Regions from separate parts of the Homo sapiens genome. Here region 2 is linked to region 1. A link means that fine-mapping ties the variant in region 1 to the expression of a gene that starts in the linked region. Tissue or cell type: subcutaneous fat. Region 1 holds a variant in brackets; the other region holds the start of a gene. All regions are shown on one strand. Distances are between the middles of the regions.

What was found. PIP is the estimated chance that this variant, and not a neighbour inherited with it, causes the effect.
Region 2: MUC4 starts here. The variant in region 1 is fine-mapped to the expression of MUC4 in subcutaneous fat (GTEx, PIP above 0.99).

The regions. Positions count from the first base shown.
Region 1 is chr3:196,022,222-196,030,322 of GRCh38, reverse strand. It overlaps LOC124909478 (a long non-coding RNA gene), which reads left to right. Exons shown (of 5, transcript XR_007096234.1): 2 at 3,063-3,186; 3 at 6,365-6,517. Among named protein-coding and RNA genes, the nearest start is that of TFRC, 56 kb to the left of the region's middle. The variant T/A (reference allele first, on the strand shown) is at 4,417.
Region 2 is chr3:195,808,080-195,816,180 of GRCh38, reverse strand. It overlaps MUC4 (mucin 4, cell surface associated), which reads left to right and starts at 4,252. Exons shown (of 25, transcript NM_018406.7): 1 at 4,252-4,445. The coding sequence starts at 4,364. It overlaps LOC124905352 (vegetative cell wall protein gp1-like), which reads right to left and starts at 476. Exons shown (of 3, transcript XM_047449429.1): 1 at 1-476. The coding sequence starts at 466. RefSeq lists enhancers at 5,992-6,555, 6,556-7,119.

The DNA.
Region 1 (8,101 bases):
TATCAAGGTAATATTAACCTTGTAGGATGAGTTTGGAAGTATCCCCTCCTCCTCTATTTTTTGGAATAGTTTGAACAGGATTGGTATTAGTTATTTAAATATTTGGTAAAATTCAGCAGTGAAGCCTTCAGGTCCTGGGCTTTTCTTTACTGGGAGACTTTTGATTATGGCTTTGATTTCATTATTAGTTATTGGTCTGTTCAGGTTTTGGATTTCTTCGTGGTTCAATCACAGTAGGTTGAATATGTCTAGGAATTTATCCACTTCTAGGTTTTCCAATTTATTAGCAACATATAGTTTTCATAGAAGTCTCTAGTGAGCCTTTGAATCTCTGCAGTATCCGTTGTAATGCCTCCTTTTACATTTCTGATTTTATCTATTTGAGTCTTTTTTCTTTTTTTCTTAGTCTGGCTAAAGGTTTGTCAATTTTGTTTATCTTTTCAAAAAACAAACTTTTTTGTTTTTTTGATTTTTTTTTATTTCAATTTCATTTATTTCTGCTCTGATCTTTATTATTTGTTTTCTTCTGATTTTGGGTTTGACTTGCTCTTGCTTTTCTCGTTCTTTCTTTTCTTTTCTTTTTTTTTTTTTTTTGAGACTGATTCTCACTCTGTCACCCAGGCTGGAGTGCAGTGGTGCCATCTCCGCTCACTGCAACCTCTGCCTCCTGGGTTCGAGCAATTCTCCTGCCTCAGCCTCCTGAGTAGCTGGGATTACAGGTGCCTGGCACCACACCCAGCTAATTTTTTGTATTTTTGGTAGAGACAGGGTTTCAATATGTTGGCCAGGCTGGTCTTGAACTCCTGACCTCAAGCAATCCACCCGTCTCAGCCTCCCAAAGTGCTGGGATTACAGGCATGAGCCACCGCGCCTGGCTCGCTCTTCTAGTTCTTTAAGATGCATTGTTAGGTGGTTTATTTGAAGTTTTTCTACTTTCTTTCTTTCTTTTTTTTTTTTTTGAGACAGCGTCTCAATCTGTTGCCCAGGATGGAGTGCAGTGGTACAATCTTGGCTCACTGCAACCTCTGCCTCCTAGGTTCAAGAGATTCTCATGTCTCGGCCTCCCGAGTAGCTGGGATTAGAGGCGTGTGCCACCCCGCCCTGCTAATTTTTGTATTTTTATTTATGTATTTATTTAGGAGACAGAGTCTTGCTCTGTCACCCAGGCTGGAGTGCAATGGCACAATCTCAGCTCACTGCAACCTCTGCCTCCTGGGTTCAAGCGATTCTCCCACCTCAGCCCCCCGACTAGCTGGGACTACAGGCACCCGCCACCACGCCCAGCTAATTTTTGTATTTTTAGTAGAGACAGGGTTTCACCATATTGACCAGGCTGGTCGCTGGTCTTGAACTCCTGACCTTGTGATCCGCCCACCTCAGCCTCCCAAAGTGCTGGGATTACAGGCGTGAGCCACCGTGCCTGGCCTGTAATCTTTAAAGCTCAATAGAAATGTAAGATCTTGCTATTGTTATGCGATTATAAAATCTTCCATTCCTTGCTTTTTCCTTGGTTGCTGGCCTAGAAACTAAATCAATTCTGTTCTCTTTTTATTTTTTAAAAGTAATCTCGAACATGTGAAATTGCTGATATTTTAATGTATTGCTGATGTTTCATCTATTCCAATGGTAGCTTCCTCTGGTTTCTTCTAATAGTTAAAACTCTATCATGCCTATAATCCCAGCACTTTGGGAGGTCAAGGCGGGCAGATCACCTGAGGTCAGAAGTTTGAGACCAGCCTGGCCAACATGGCAAAACCCTGTCTCCACTTAAAAGATGAAAATTGGCAGGAGAATCGCTTGAACCCGGGAGACCTTGGTTGCAGTGAACCAAGATTACACCACTGTACTCCAGTCTGGGCAACAAAGCGAGACTCAGAAAAAAAAAAAAATATATATATATATATATATATATATATGTATGTATATATACACACACATATCAAAGCAATATATTTGTATAGTGAAACCTCAGACAGTGCCACTAAGTGAATGATAATATAAAACTCTTATTTCTTATTTTGCTATGATGTTAGGTTCTCAACAATCATTCCGCCTGCTGGTTTACCTTGGTCTTTTTTCCCATTGAGATGGGTTTCCCTTCAATGTCTGGTGATTCTTCATTGTTCACATTTAATAGTGACACGTGAAGAAGGAGAATGAGTCTGTGTTATCATTAGTGAAAGGCTCGTCTAGATGGTGATTCTTCACTGTTCACATTTAATAGTGACACGTGAAGAAGGAGAATGAGTCTGTGTTATCATTAGTGAAAGGCTTGTCTAGATGGTGATTCTTCATTGTTCACATTTAATAGTAACACATGAAGGAGAATGAGTCTGTGTTATCATTAGTGAAAGGCTCGTCTAGGTGGTGATTCTTCACTGTTCACATTTAATAGTAACACATGAAGGAGAATGAGTCTGTGTTATCATTAGTGAAAGGCTCGTCTAGATGGTGATTCTTCACTGTTCACATTTAATAGTGACACGTGAAGAAGGAGAATGAGTCTGTGTTATCATTAGTGAAAGGCTCGTCTAGATGGTGATTCTTCACTGTTCACATTTAATAGTGACACGTGAAGAAGGAGAATGAGTCTGTGTTATCATTAGTGAAAGGCTCGTCTAGGTGGTGATTCTTCACTGTTCACATTTAATAGTAACACATGAAGGAGAATGAGTGTGTTATCATTAGTGAAAGGCTCGTCTAGGTGGTGATTCTTCACTGTTCACATTTAATAGTAACACGTGAAGGAGAATGAGTGTGTTATCATTAGTGAAAGGCTCGTCTAGAGGTTTTGCTTCGGGGAGTCGATGGGGTTTCCGCATGTTAGTAAGTGATGCCTTTGGTCTGGATGGTTTCCTTCCTCTGGAGAAAACCTTCTCCTCTCCTCTCTGGAAGGCAGCTGCTTGCTTGTTGGTTGTTGGTGTTCTACTCACTGGTTACCCGAGGGGTGGGGTGCTGGCATCGGTGAGGGAGGATAATGAGGGTTGACTGTCAATGTACAGATTTTAATCGACCCTCCTGTTTTCTGATGCCTGCCTCACTTCTCTGCCCCTCACCCCCAGGAAGGTCCACAGATGATGCTCCTTCTCACGGATGCGAGGCCATCAAATCACTTTTTGTCTCCGCTGCTCTCTCTCCATCGTGGATAGCCACCATGGTTTCTCAGGAGGGAAAGGACACAACTGGGTCAGTATTTCGTCTACCATCTTTAACTTGGAAGCTTCTTCTTCCAACTAAAGCTAGAATAGCAAAGCTTGAGAAAGGGTTTTGAAAATATTTAGTAACTCAAGTTTTTGGGATGATTTGAACATCTTAAGGCACTAAGTTACTGGGTTTTCTGAAAATGGTGATGGGGAATCATTAATTAATTAATTAATCTCTGCTTTGTTTTAAATATATTGCACCAGGTTTGTGTGTTAGAATTCACACTCAAAAAGTACAGGTTTAATTTTGATATATTTTCTTTGAAGAAATAGCTTAACTGCTCTTCAATGCTATACTTAGGATGTGGCCAAATCTTTATTTGAGACAAAATGTATTATTTCTCTCTATGTAAATTAAGATGTTGTACTTTGAAAAATCATTCCTTTGGGAATTTTTAGATCTTTCTCAGTTTTCTTGAACCTTTTGTGTAAGAGCAATGACCTTATATTTGTCACATTGTTCCTATTAAACACTTAGCTGTGGGCACGAAAGAAACGGGCAGTTCTGTTACAAGAATAAGGTGGAGAAGGTAGTATCACTCTTACTCTTTCATGGATGGGCAAACAGGTTCAGGAATTTCCCAGAACCAAGGTTTTCTATCTTATAATTGGGTGTTCTTTGTCTCACAACATGCGCTTCGTCCTTCCGTATGAATCTCTTTGCTCAGGCTGACTCTGAATGTCAGCTCTCACATGCTAAGCACACATTAATTTCTCTTATCCTTTATTCCCACCTAGTGTGCGGGTGGTTTTGAGAGGATCCTGTACGGTATGGTCCTCAGGTGCTTGGCAAAATGGGTCCACCCCCTCCCGGGTAACCCTGGCTCTAGGCCCTCTTCCATGTCCTGGCCTTCCCCAGCAGTCCCCTGGAGCCCTCTGGCGACCAAAACTCCACAGTGAAGCGCCGCCTGGAGTGGTGGCCGGTGAAGGGTTCCCAGTTCGGGACACGTTATTCCTCTTCTGTAAAAACTGCACCACTTTCAGCTAGACTCTCAGGCAAAGGCACAGAAAATTACCTGATTAGATTCATGATCTTTTAGAGGTTTCCTATCGCTGAGGTCATCTGAGCCAGCAGTTTTCAAAATGAGTTGACAGCTTCATATCCTAAAATGTTGCATTTAAATTCCAGTTAAAAATAGTTTAACTACTGTATTTTTCCATTCTAAGACAGATTTTTTTCATGCTTTGCTTTTTCTGGAGTTAGCATGCATCT[T/A]ATAATTGATACACTTCATTTAATATGATGGGATCTCTTCTGTTCTTCTAAAAAATTATCAATACATTTGTGATGAATATTGGTTTAATAGCATCTCAGAATGTAAAACATCCAGGTTGCAATCATTACCTCTTCTACAATATTTAGGTGAAGAAGGTCATATTTCTTTCTTTTTTAAGTCAAATTATATCTAGCAGAAACTCCCATATATCAAGATGTGGAAGATTCCAATTCACGGAGGTTCCTCGTCATATTCTGTGCCAGACACTGGAGGCCGGTATGGTGGGACTTCATGCTCCGCACCTTCCTGTCTCACTACTTTTCCTGTGACTGCCAATTGCTGGCCCTTTACTCTGAAGGGGGTTAGAGGACGACTGCCTCTGGCATTGGGGAGGGGATACTCCTCACAGCACAAGAAGTGGCAAGAAAGCAGCTGACAAATGCTGGAACCTTGGCCACACCAACCACATCTGGGGAATTGCATGTGACTAGGGCCAAGCCCATTAGGAATGCTCCTTTTCTGGGAACATCTCTCCAGTATCTTCGTTTTGATTTCCCATTGGCTAGTCCAGCTTACCCCCTTAGATTATTCTAGATCTCCCCAGAAAATACCTGGGTAAGAGTTATCCAGGCAAATTCTCTTTTCCTCCTTTTAACCCTAAAGGCTATATTGGGTGTATGTGTGCACGTGTGTGTGCGTGTGCGTGTGTGTGCATGTGTGTGCCTGCGCGTGCGTGTGCTCGTGTGTGTGCGCGTGTGTGTGCGCTCATGCGTGCATGGGTGTGTGTGTGTTACAGAGAGATCTAATCTGCAGAAGCACAGCTTCTGGGAAAAGGGAAAAGGGCTGCTTTATTTCCTGATGCCTCCAAAGCACACACAAAGAAGATATAAGTTAGTACTTGCTCTAATATTCCATCTGTAACATTGAGCATTTAAAAGTCATAATAATACATTAAAATACCATGCCCATACAAGTGCATTTAAAATGTAGCATTAATGAAACAATTAAATGTCCCAACTTAACCTGTCTTCTTGCAAGCCACGAAATAAATTTCTCCCACTATCTCTATGTGTATGTTTACCATTTGTGCAAATTTACCACTGAAAAGAGATTGTAGACAATTTTTATTTTGATAGCAATCCACTCATGTAAAATTACACACAGAAATACTACTATAACCCATGTGTATTGCAAGATCCAATTAAATGTAAACCAAGGCCCATTTGTTCATGCATGTGTTTTTATGATTTTGTCTGTTGTTTCTCTGACTTACATATTTATAATACAGAATGTGAGAAGAGTGAGCTCTTTGTAGTTATTTAGCTTTAAGGCATAGACAACTGTTTTAGAACCTTTAAAAAGCAATTGCAGATTTTTTTAAAAGTCTCTTGAAATTACAAGTCCTTTTTAAAAATTATTATTCTTTGAAACTACTTTTCTGTATACATCAAGATTTATCAATAGCATATGAACAAAATAAAACGGGACAGGATGGTAATGGCCACCTCATATTGCTTATTTCTTTTATAATAACTAAGTCATATAAATTGAGCTCACAAAAATATTTATATTAATAAAATTATAATTTATCATTGGTAATGTCTGAGTTTTTCTTGTACATTTTTATGTAGCAAGAAAAAAATTTTTACTGTTAAAAATGGTTTTTAAAAAATCGCAGCAAGCCTAAGCCCCTTCATTTTACGAACACAATAACCTGAGGCTCATCAGGGCTGGTGACTCACACAGGCGCACACTCAGCATTGCTGGATGTCGGCTCAGGATCCAGAATGCATTTGAACAACTCACGCTAAGTTAATAAACGCACTTTAAGATAAGCCCATATTAATCCCAAAGTAACTAAACTTGTGGAATTTGTAAAAGAAGATGTTTATGAACGAGGACATGGCATTTCCACATTACTTCTGATTCTCCCCTTTCTAAAAGCAGAATCTACGGTCTCTATTTTCCCGTTGCGAGATTTCAGCGGAGAGCCTGGTGGCACTTACAGCAGACATCACAGATGCCTCAGCGTTTCGGATGAGGACAGTAAAGACCTTCCTTGCTTCATGAAACCTTCGTTTTCCAGGGGAGAAAACACAGGTTGAGTCTAAACTCAGTCCTCCTGTTGAAATATTTTAATGACGCTGAAAGAGGCTGTTGCGTTTGGCAGGTGCGTGTGGAGCTGTGTGGCCCTGCACTGAAGCCCTGCAGTCCTGACTTCTGAGTGGAGCTACAGGAGAATTATGTTAATGTGTTTGCACTACTCGCTCAGTTGTAAAAAGTTACAAATATATTTAATGAGGATAAAATAGTTTAACAATGTTTACACACCTATTTTAGTTATTACATTCTCTAAGCTATTTTTATCCTCACAACCATGGAAGCACTCCGCCATCTCCATTTCAGAAAGTAGACAATAACTGAAAAAAAACTGTCTACTTTTTTAAAACGTGATTTACTTCATTATGAAAGTTCATAGTTTATGTAATTAATACCTTTTTGTGGTCTGCGTTCAGTGGGTGTTGGCATCTGCACACTGTCGTGGGTCCACTGTTGTGGTGAAATCGCACACAGTGATCTCACTGCCCTAAACATCCGGGGCTCTCTGCCCATCCATCCTTTCCTCTCCCCAACCCCTGTCGACCACTGATTATTTTACTATCTATGTAATTTTCCCTTTTCCAAAATGTCACGTAATTACATAGATATTTTACTCTCTATGTAGTTTTTCCTTTTCCAAAATGTCACATAATTGGAATCATACAGTATGTAGCCTTTTTGGCTTCTTTCACTTAGTAATGTGCATTTTGGGTCCCTGTATGCCTTTTCATGACTTGATAGCTCATTTCTTTTCTCACTGAATGATATTCCATTGTCTGTAGGTACCAGAATTTATTTCTCAATTCACCTACTGAAGGACATGTTGGTCACCTCGTTTCTGGTAATTCTGAATAAAGCTTCTATGTAGGTGCCAGCCCTACAGGGTTTGTGGGTTTTTTCTCCCCATGTGCAGAGATGAGAGATTGTAGAAAAAGAGACACAAGACAAAGAGATAAAAGAAAAGACAGCTGGGACCGGGGGACCACTACCACCAAGACGCAGAGACCAGTAGTGGCCCCGAATGCCAGGCTGCGCTGTTATTTATTGGATACAAAGCAAAAGGGGCAGGGTAAAGACTGTGAGTCATCCAACTGATTGATAAGGTCACGGAGTCACGTGTCCACCAGACAGGGGGCCCTTCCCTGTTTGGCAGCCGAGTCAGAGAGACAGAGAGGACAGCTTATGCCATTATTTTTTCTATGCTCTTTTCAGAAAGATCAAAGACTTTAATACTTTCACTAATTTGCTACTGCTATCTAGAAGGCAGAGCCAGGTGTGCAGAGTGGAACATGAGAGCGGACCAGGAGCGTGACCACTGAGGCACAGCATCACAGGGAGACGGTTAGGCCTCCGGATAACTGCAGGCGGGCCTGACTCATGTCAGGCCCTCCACAAAAGGTGGAGGAGTAGAGTCTTCTCTAAACTCCCCCGGGGAAAGGGAGACTCCCTTTCCCGGTCTGCTAGGTAGCGGGTGTTTTTCCTTGACACTGACGCTACCACTAGACCACAGTCCGCTTGGCAACGGGCGTCTTCCCAGGCACTGGCGTTACCGCTAGACCAAGGAGCCCTCTGGTGGCCCGGTCC
Region 2 (8,101 bases), 210 kb after region 1:
GGAGGCCGGGCTGGGCAGGAGGATGTGGCACCTGCGTAAGGAGAAGGAGGCCGGGCTGGGCAGGAGGATGTGGCACCTGCGTAAGGAGAAGGAGGCCGGGCTGGGCAGGAGGATGTGGCACCTGCGTAAGGAGAAGGAGGCCGGGCTGGGCAGGAGGATGTGGCACCTGCGTAGGGAGAAGGAGGCCGGGCTGGGCAGGAGGATGTGGCACCTGCGTAAGGAGAAGGAGGCCGGGCTGGGCAGGAGGATGTGGCACCTGCGTAAGGAGAAGGAGGCCGGGCTGGGCAGGAGGATGTGGCACCTGCGTAAGGAGAAGGAGGCCGGGCTGGGCAGGAGGATGTGGCACCTGCGTAAGGAGAAGGAGGCCGGGCTGGGCAGGAGGATGTGGCACCTGTGTAAGAAGAAGGAGGCCGGGCTGGGCAGGAGGATGTGGCACAGCTGACACAGCCACAAAGCTCCTGCCCATGGGGCGCTCTGAGGGGCAGACTGCCTGTTGGCGGAGTCTTGTGGGGTGGAAATGGTGAGGTCACTGTGATGCCACTTTGCTTAGTCATCGGCCACAGGGTCACCTGGAGAAGAGCATGAGCTCAGCATAAAAGCAAGGCCCACCCTGCAGGGGCCAGCAGCTGGGAGCTGTCCACTAACCACTATCCTTGCAGCTGGACAGCGAGGCCCCTCCAAAAGGCCGTCTCCACCTGCCACCGGGAAAGGACCCGGAGCGAAGGATGTCGTGGGCGGTCAGCCCAGGTGATTGCCCTTCTTTTGCTTTGGAGCCAGGCAGAACAGAGCTCAAATTCCAGCTTTGGGACAGTGTGTGGCCCAGAAGGCTGTAACTGCGGAGTTAACACTCTCCAGTTTCCCTAGATGGCCCGACCTGGCCGGTGACTCGGGGATGATGAAGCTCCTGGAGCCTCAGCGTGCTCACTTGAGAGGTAGGGCAGCGCTTTGTACTTCACAGGGCCATGGGGACAGGCTCAGGGCCTGGCACTCTAGTGACCGGCTTCATGCTGGGTCACTGACTAGGGAATCCACACACCTTTTTAGTCCAGACTGAGTAGGTAAATCAGACTTAATAAACATCCAGCTTCCTGCTCGAGATCAGCCTAGTTGTCCTAAGTCTGACAAGATTGAACTTTATTCACAGCACGAGGCATAAATGATATAAAGGTAAGCAATTTTAGGGGACCCAAAAAACTAGGGACTCCTACTTGGGTAGCTTAGAAGGGGAATCTCTCTTGGAGATCCTGGCTTTGCTGCCTCAAACCCAGCTGTCTCTTCAAGCCAAGTCTGGGAGAATCTCATGATCTTATCCTTGCTCCAATTTACTTACACCCCACATCCACACTAAGCTCTTCCTGCCTCCCGTGGAATATTAACTTACACCTGACTTCAGACTCCTGCCCCTATGCAGACCCAGCAGTATGCGGGCCTAGGAGGTTTTTCGGCCACAAGGAACTAGAGAAGCCACTCATTTTGTCCCCTCTCATTCACCCCATTCTGTCCCCATCGGATGCCTTGGGAGGAGAGAAGGAAGGACAAATGGGTGTCCCGTGACCCAACCCAGATGAAGACAGAGCCATTTATCACAGAGACCCAGACACATCCTAACTCTGGAAAATGGGCATATTGAGGGGAGCTGGAAAGCAGAAGGGAAACGGGCGTGGGCAGGGAAGAGGTGAACAGGAGTGCGCACGCCCAGTTCTCCAGGATCTCACGCTCCTAATCAGGATCCTATAAGACTCAAAGGGGACGCAGGAAAGACCTGGGCCTGGAAATTCACTTCCGGACTCCTCCTGTATCCTGGCTGGCCCTCGTTTGTGTCTCCCTCCAGGGATGATGCCCGGATGGAAGGAGGAGCCACGTTCCTCCACAGGTGTCCTCCACAACAGGTGTCCTCACAACAGGTGTCGTAACAACAGGTGTCCTCACAACAGGTGTCCTAATACTCCCGCAGCCCCTCAGCATCTACAGGCTCACTCCCACCCTACAACCTTTCAGATAGGTGTTATCCCCATTTTACAGGTGAACGAGGAAAACAGCTCGAAGAGGCTGTGACTTTGTGGTGACGCGGTGGCAGAGCTGGGATCAAGCCCAGGTTTGTAACGCCCTCCTGGAGTCTCGGCCGTCACAGCAGCTTCCGGAGAGCGCTGTGTGCCTCTGGCCTTCCTGGCATGGGAAAGAGGTCAGCTACCTGTGTTCGGTCAACAAGATGTCCAGCGCTTAGTTTGGTCTCACCTGGATGCTCCTTTCTCCTCTAGAGATGGAAAACTGTTGTCCTGAAAGCGTCACCAAACAAAACCTGTGGAAAGGTAATGGGGGGACCCACGAGCAAGAGCTGACAGAAAAATGACCACGGGCCGGGTGCAGTGGCTCACGCCTGTAATCCCAGCACTTTGGGAGGCCAAGGCGGGCGGATCATCTGAGTTCAGGGGTTCGAGACCAACCTGGCCAACATGGTGAAACCTCGTCCCTACTAAAAATACAAAAAAAATTAGCCGGGCGTGGTGGCAGGTGCCTGTAGTCCCAGCTACTAGGGAGGCTGAGGCAGGGGAATGGCGTGAACCCGGGAGGCGGAGCTTGCAGTGAGCTGAGATGGTGCCACTGCACTCCAGCCTGGGCGACAGAGCAAGACTCCATCTCAAAAAAAAAAAAAAGTGCAAAATGATCACGAAGGCCAAGCTGGGCCTTGGTGTCTGCGAATTCCCTGCAGTAGGTCCCTCCTGCTGCCCCGTCCAGGCGCCCACAGGATGCTCCACATGACTCTTTACCTTTATGATTTTCTTACCTCCAGGAAAGAACAGGGTCAGCTCGTCCACCCAGAGCTGGAGGGACTGTTGGGGGACCACGCCACTTCCCCACGGTATCCGCATTATTATGGCGTGGCCCAGGCTTTGGCCTGGGGCCATGAACAGACTTTCAGCTTCTAGAAGCAAGTGGTCACAGGGCCTCCGTGACCCTCGGAGACAGCGCCACAGCGTCGGTTGCCTACTCCTTGCTGGACAAGGCTGGCTCTGCTTGGGAATGCAGAAACCCTGAGTCCTTGTCCTGGGCCCCACAGTGTCTGAGCATCGAAGGTCCCTGCTCTGGGACGAGTCACCCCACAGACACCCCACATTCGGGAATCAAGTCTTGAGGAATCAGAAGCAGAGATTCACACTGTGGCAAAGAGGGGAGCGGAGGTATCCCCGTTTTCCTTTGCAGAGAGCTACACCAACTGCCCTCTTCGTCTTTACAACCCTACTTGGGGTCCCTTTCCCTCCTCGCTTGTGCCTGTGAGTTCCAAGAGGTGGAACTGGGGTGAGCAGAGCCCCCAGGTCTCCAGGAGCAGCTCCACCTCCTCACAGGTTACAGTCGCTTCCTCCTACCGAGGTTCTGCCTTCAACCCACTGCCCATGCCAGCTCCCTCAGGCCAGTCTCCCAGACTGTCCCTGGCTCCCTGCACCCTGGCTCCAGCTCCCTGCCCTGGAAAGAAGAAGTCCACCATCTGGTGAGGGTCTGCCACGCATCTGGGGTCTGCCATGCGTCTGCACTGAGGTTCTGCCACGAGTCTGCACTGAGGTTCTGCCATGCGTCTGGAGTCTGCCACGCGTCTGGGGTCTGCCACGCGTCTGGAGTCTGCCATGGGTCTGGGGTCTGCCATGTGTCTGGGATCTGCCGTGCGTCTGGGGTCTGCCACGCATCTGCACTGAGGTTCTGCCACGCGTCTGGGGTCTGCCACGCGTCTGGGGTCTGCCACGCGTCTGGGGTCTGCCACGCGCCTGCACTGAGCAGATATTCCAAGCACACCACCCCTTTCCAAAAGACGGCATACAGTGCATTTCTGTTCCTGCCCCTCACCCACATGGTTCCCCGCTTCCCAATTCCTTGGGGTCTGCTTAAGTCTCACTCTCTTTCCCCCATTCATACAGCCCCAAGGTCGCTCCCTCTGGGGCCCTTTCTTCCCCATTCTTCCCAGCAGCCCAAAGCTCTGGTGGGACAGGGGCAGCCCCTGGGGAGGGAGGAGAGGACCCAGGAACCCGGCTAGGAGGGTGGCCCACCCATTTCCAGTGTGACCTGTTCCCATTCCCCCATGTCTCCTCCCATCCCTCCCGCCACTCAGCTCAGGCTGATGAGAAGCAGAGCAACGGGTGTATCGGTGTTTTCTTTCCTGGTGGGGTAGTGGGGTGGGGCTGAGGAGAGAAAAGGGTGATTAGCGTGGGGCCCCGCCCTCTTTTGTCCTCTTCCCAGGTTCCCTGGCCCCTTCGGAGAAACGCACTTGGTTCGGGCCAGCCGCCTGAGGGGACGGGCTCACGTCTGCTCCTCACACTGCAGCTGCTGGGCCGTGGAGCTTCCCCAGGGAGCCAGGGGGACTTTTGCCGCAGCCATGAAGGGGGCACGCTGGAGGAGGGTCCCCTGGGTGTCCCTGAGCTGCCTGTGTCTCTGCCTCCTTCCGCATGTGGTCCCAGGTAAGTGATGGAGACAGCAGATGAGGCTGGCTGCGGGGAGCACTTGGGGGAGGTGGGAGCTGTCAGAGAAAGAGGTCCGGGGAGACAGAGAGAGAGAGAGAGAGAATAGGGGAAAGGGAGACAGCGAAGAGGAAGAGAAGGGAGAGAAAAAGAGGGAGAGGGAAAGGAGAAAGAGATGAATGGGACAACATGGGGGGAAGGTGGAGAGAGACCCAGAGAGGGAAAGAAGAGGAAGAGAAGAGGGAGAGAGAAAGAAGAGTGGAGGCCGTGCGCGGTGGCTCATGCCTGTAATCCCAGCACTTTCGGAGGCCAAGGCAGGAGATCACCTGAGGTCAGGAGTTCGAGACCAGCCTGGCCGACATGGTGAAACCCCGTCTCTACTAAATATACAAAAATTAGCCGGTCGTGGTGGGCCCCACCTGTAATTCCAGCTACTCAGGAGTCTGAGGCAGGAGAATCACTTGAACCTGGGAGGTGGAGGTTGCAGTGAGCCAAGATCGCGCCACTGCACTCCAGCCTGGGAGAGAGAGCGAGACTCTGTCTCAAAATAAATAAATAAATAAATAAATAAATAAATAAATAAATAAATATAAAATAAAATAAAAAATAAGAAGAGGAGAAAAGTGGGGAAGAGGAGGCATGAACTGGCAGATACGGGACAAGATCTGAGGGGAAAGACAGAGGGAGAATGCTCGAAAGAGAGAGAAAAGAGAACAGAGGGCCAGAGAGCAGCCCGGCGATGTCTGGAAGGATCCATGGTGAGAGCCCAGGCTTACTCGCAGAGAGAAAGACAGGCAGAGCCAGAGCAAGAGGAACAGAGTCAAGGAGAAAGATGTACACCCTTGTGTACAGAGCTGGGGGTAGAGGGGATGCCAGGAAAGCTGGGTGATGGAGACGGAAGAAAACTCATGTAAAGCTGCAGGGTGAGAGGACGAGACAGGTGAGACGCAGACAAACTGAGGACCCTGGGAATGGAGAGAGGAGAAGATCGGGAGACAGCAGCAAGCAAGGGAAGCGACAAGGAGGAGAGGGGCAGGCCGGCCGGGAGGGTGGTGCGGAGGAGGCGGCCAGGGCGCAGAGGGCCGGGAGGTGCTGGCCGTGGGCTTCTTACCTCTGAGCTCGGGTTTAAAAGCCTCCATTTGGGTCACGGCCTTGCCTGGGGCTCGTAGCCCCGGCATTGGCCTTGGGCTCCTCCGTGTACAGAGCTGGGAGGGGAGGGATGCCAGGCCTGTGGGAGATGTTCCCTCGGGGGCCCCCGTCCTCTTCCCCACACTTTCCAGGCTGTCCCTCTGGCTTCAGGACCAAGTTTTATTCTGTGTTTCTGGGTGTCTGAGTCTTTGGGGGAGAGTCTGGGGTCCAGAGTTCAAGCTGGGGTTAGAGTCTCAGCTCCTGCCCTGCCTCTCAGCAGGCTAAGAACAGTCGCCGAGGGAAAATATTTCTTGGGCGCATATTTGAGGAGCTTCCTGGGAGTGAGTCAGAAGGCGAGTGCCGTTTAAAGGCTGCAAGAGAAGCCATGCTGGTGAAGCGGACCCTTCCACCTCGGGATGTTTCAGGACTAGGCTGAGGGCAAAGGAAACTGCCACCACCTCCCTACACCTCCCCACCCTCCAGCACCCCCACCCCACCCTGGCCACACAACCCCGCTCCAGTGCTCATCCCACCGTGAGGACGTGGAGGCCGGAAGGAGCCGCCACACGGCCCTGCCCTGCAGATGTGGTTGAAGGAGTCTCCACGGGAATCATGACTCCCAGAGCGAGGCTGGGGCTTGGGGCGCCGGGGAGGCAGCTTGGATTTAGGAGCCCCAGGGCCAAGTCTTTGCCGTGAACTGTTCTGGCCCCTGTGACCAGGCCCTGCCCCGTGTCTCCCCAGGGCCCCGGTCCCCTGTGTAAAAAGCAGTGGTGAACGGTTGGACCTCCTGACGCCCAAGTTCTTGAGTTTCCAAATCTGTGATTTAAAGCTGAGCCCAAATGTGCTGGGTACCAGCTGGACACTCAGCTCCATGTGGAGCCAGGAAGTGGGGTCTGTGGAGAGGAGCGCAGAGGGGCAAGACCTGGGGTGGGCGTGGAAAAGCACGGGGGCGTGACCCGGAGAAGGAGTGAAGGACTGTTGGTGTGCAAGGGCGTCTCCATGACGACCCGAAGAAGCTAGGCATGTCGTGGAGCGCTGAGTCCTTTGCGTCGCTAAGGGGACCAAGTGGAGCTGGGCCAGGAGAGGAGATGGTCGTGGCTGGGAGATGGCACCCACACATCTGACCGGGCATGACCAGGGCCTTGGCAGGAAAAGCAGTCACCAAGGGCGGGTGGGCAGCCCCCACCCCCACAGGGCAGCTGCTGGAGGACTGGCAGCCAGCCAGCCCCGTTCCTTTTGGCTCCCTGAAGGGGTTTACAGATGACCTGCCTATACTTGAGTCTAGGGTCTGTTTGCACACTTGCCGGCAGGACCCTCACCCAGGCTGGGTCACACTGAAGCCCAGGCCAGAGGAAAAACACAGGGTTTCCACAAAGGAGCTGCCGCAATGAGGGTTTCCTTAAGGAACAGCCCTGGCTCTCAAGGGTTAAAGGATAAGGCACAGCAGACAGAGGTGGGCTAGACAAGGACAGATGGAAATTTGGTGTCTACTGGTCGCCCCAGGCAGGAATGACTCAGAAGGAAGCCTGGCCGTCCTGGTTCCATGCCACAGGGAAAGGCAACTGGGTCGAAATAGGCCTTGGTCTCCAGCACTATCAGTGACCCCAGGGAGGTGACAGGCTGGAGCAAGTGCAGGGCAGGCAGGGGAGGGGACGCCGGCCACAGCGCACTCCACGGGGAAGGGTCTTTATGGGCCCCTCCTCGGAGAACCCCCGGTCTATCTGTCAGTCTGGGACAGGCCACCTCAACTTGCCACCGAGGACACCAAAACTCTCCACAGACCCCTCTGCCCCTCTGGGAAACCCCACTGTGCTCCAGGACACTCAAAAGGAAAGGATCCCTGGACAAGAGGTCCTGCCAGGAACATCAGCCAAATTTTGGCCAACGACCAGCAAGGTGCACAGGGAAGAGCAGGGGCTGAAACTCAGAGGTCCAGCATCAGCGACGCCCTTGGCAGCCCAGGGAACACAGGCAACGCCTTTTGGCTCTGGAGTCTTAGGCTCTTCATCGGCAAACTGAGCCCAGGGGGAAGGGGCTACTACGTAGGGTTGTCATGAGGATGAAACGAGACAGCATCTGGTGTAAAGTAGAAAAGGCATAAAGGGCCGGGCGCGGTGGCTCACGCTGTAATCCCAGCACTTTTGGAGGCCCAGGCGGGTGGATCACCTGAGGTCAGGAGTTCAAGACCAGCTTGGCCAACCCTGTCTCCACTAAAAATAAAAAATTTTGCCGGGCGTGGTGGCGAGCGCCTGTAATTCCAGCTACTCGGGAGGCTGAGGTAGGAGAATGGCTTGAACCTGGGAGGCAGAGGTTGCAGGGAGCCGAAATGGCAGCACTCTAGCTTGGGTGACAGAGCAAGACTCTGTCTAAAAAAAAAAGAAAAGCCATAAAGACGTGTTTGAGAAAGAGGCCTGGGAAGACGGGGGAAGGAGGGTGATTGAACCCGGAATGGCACTTGTGTCGGCCCAGGGTCATATCCCTTCATCTAAGGATCCTCGTGCCTCTAAAAAGCCACCCCGTGCTTCCTG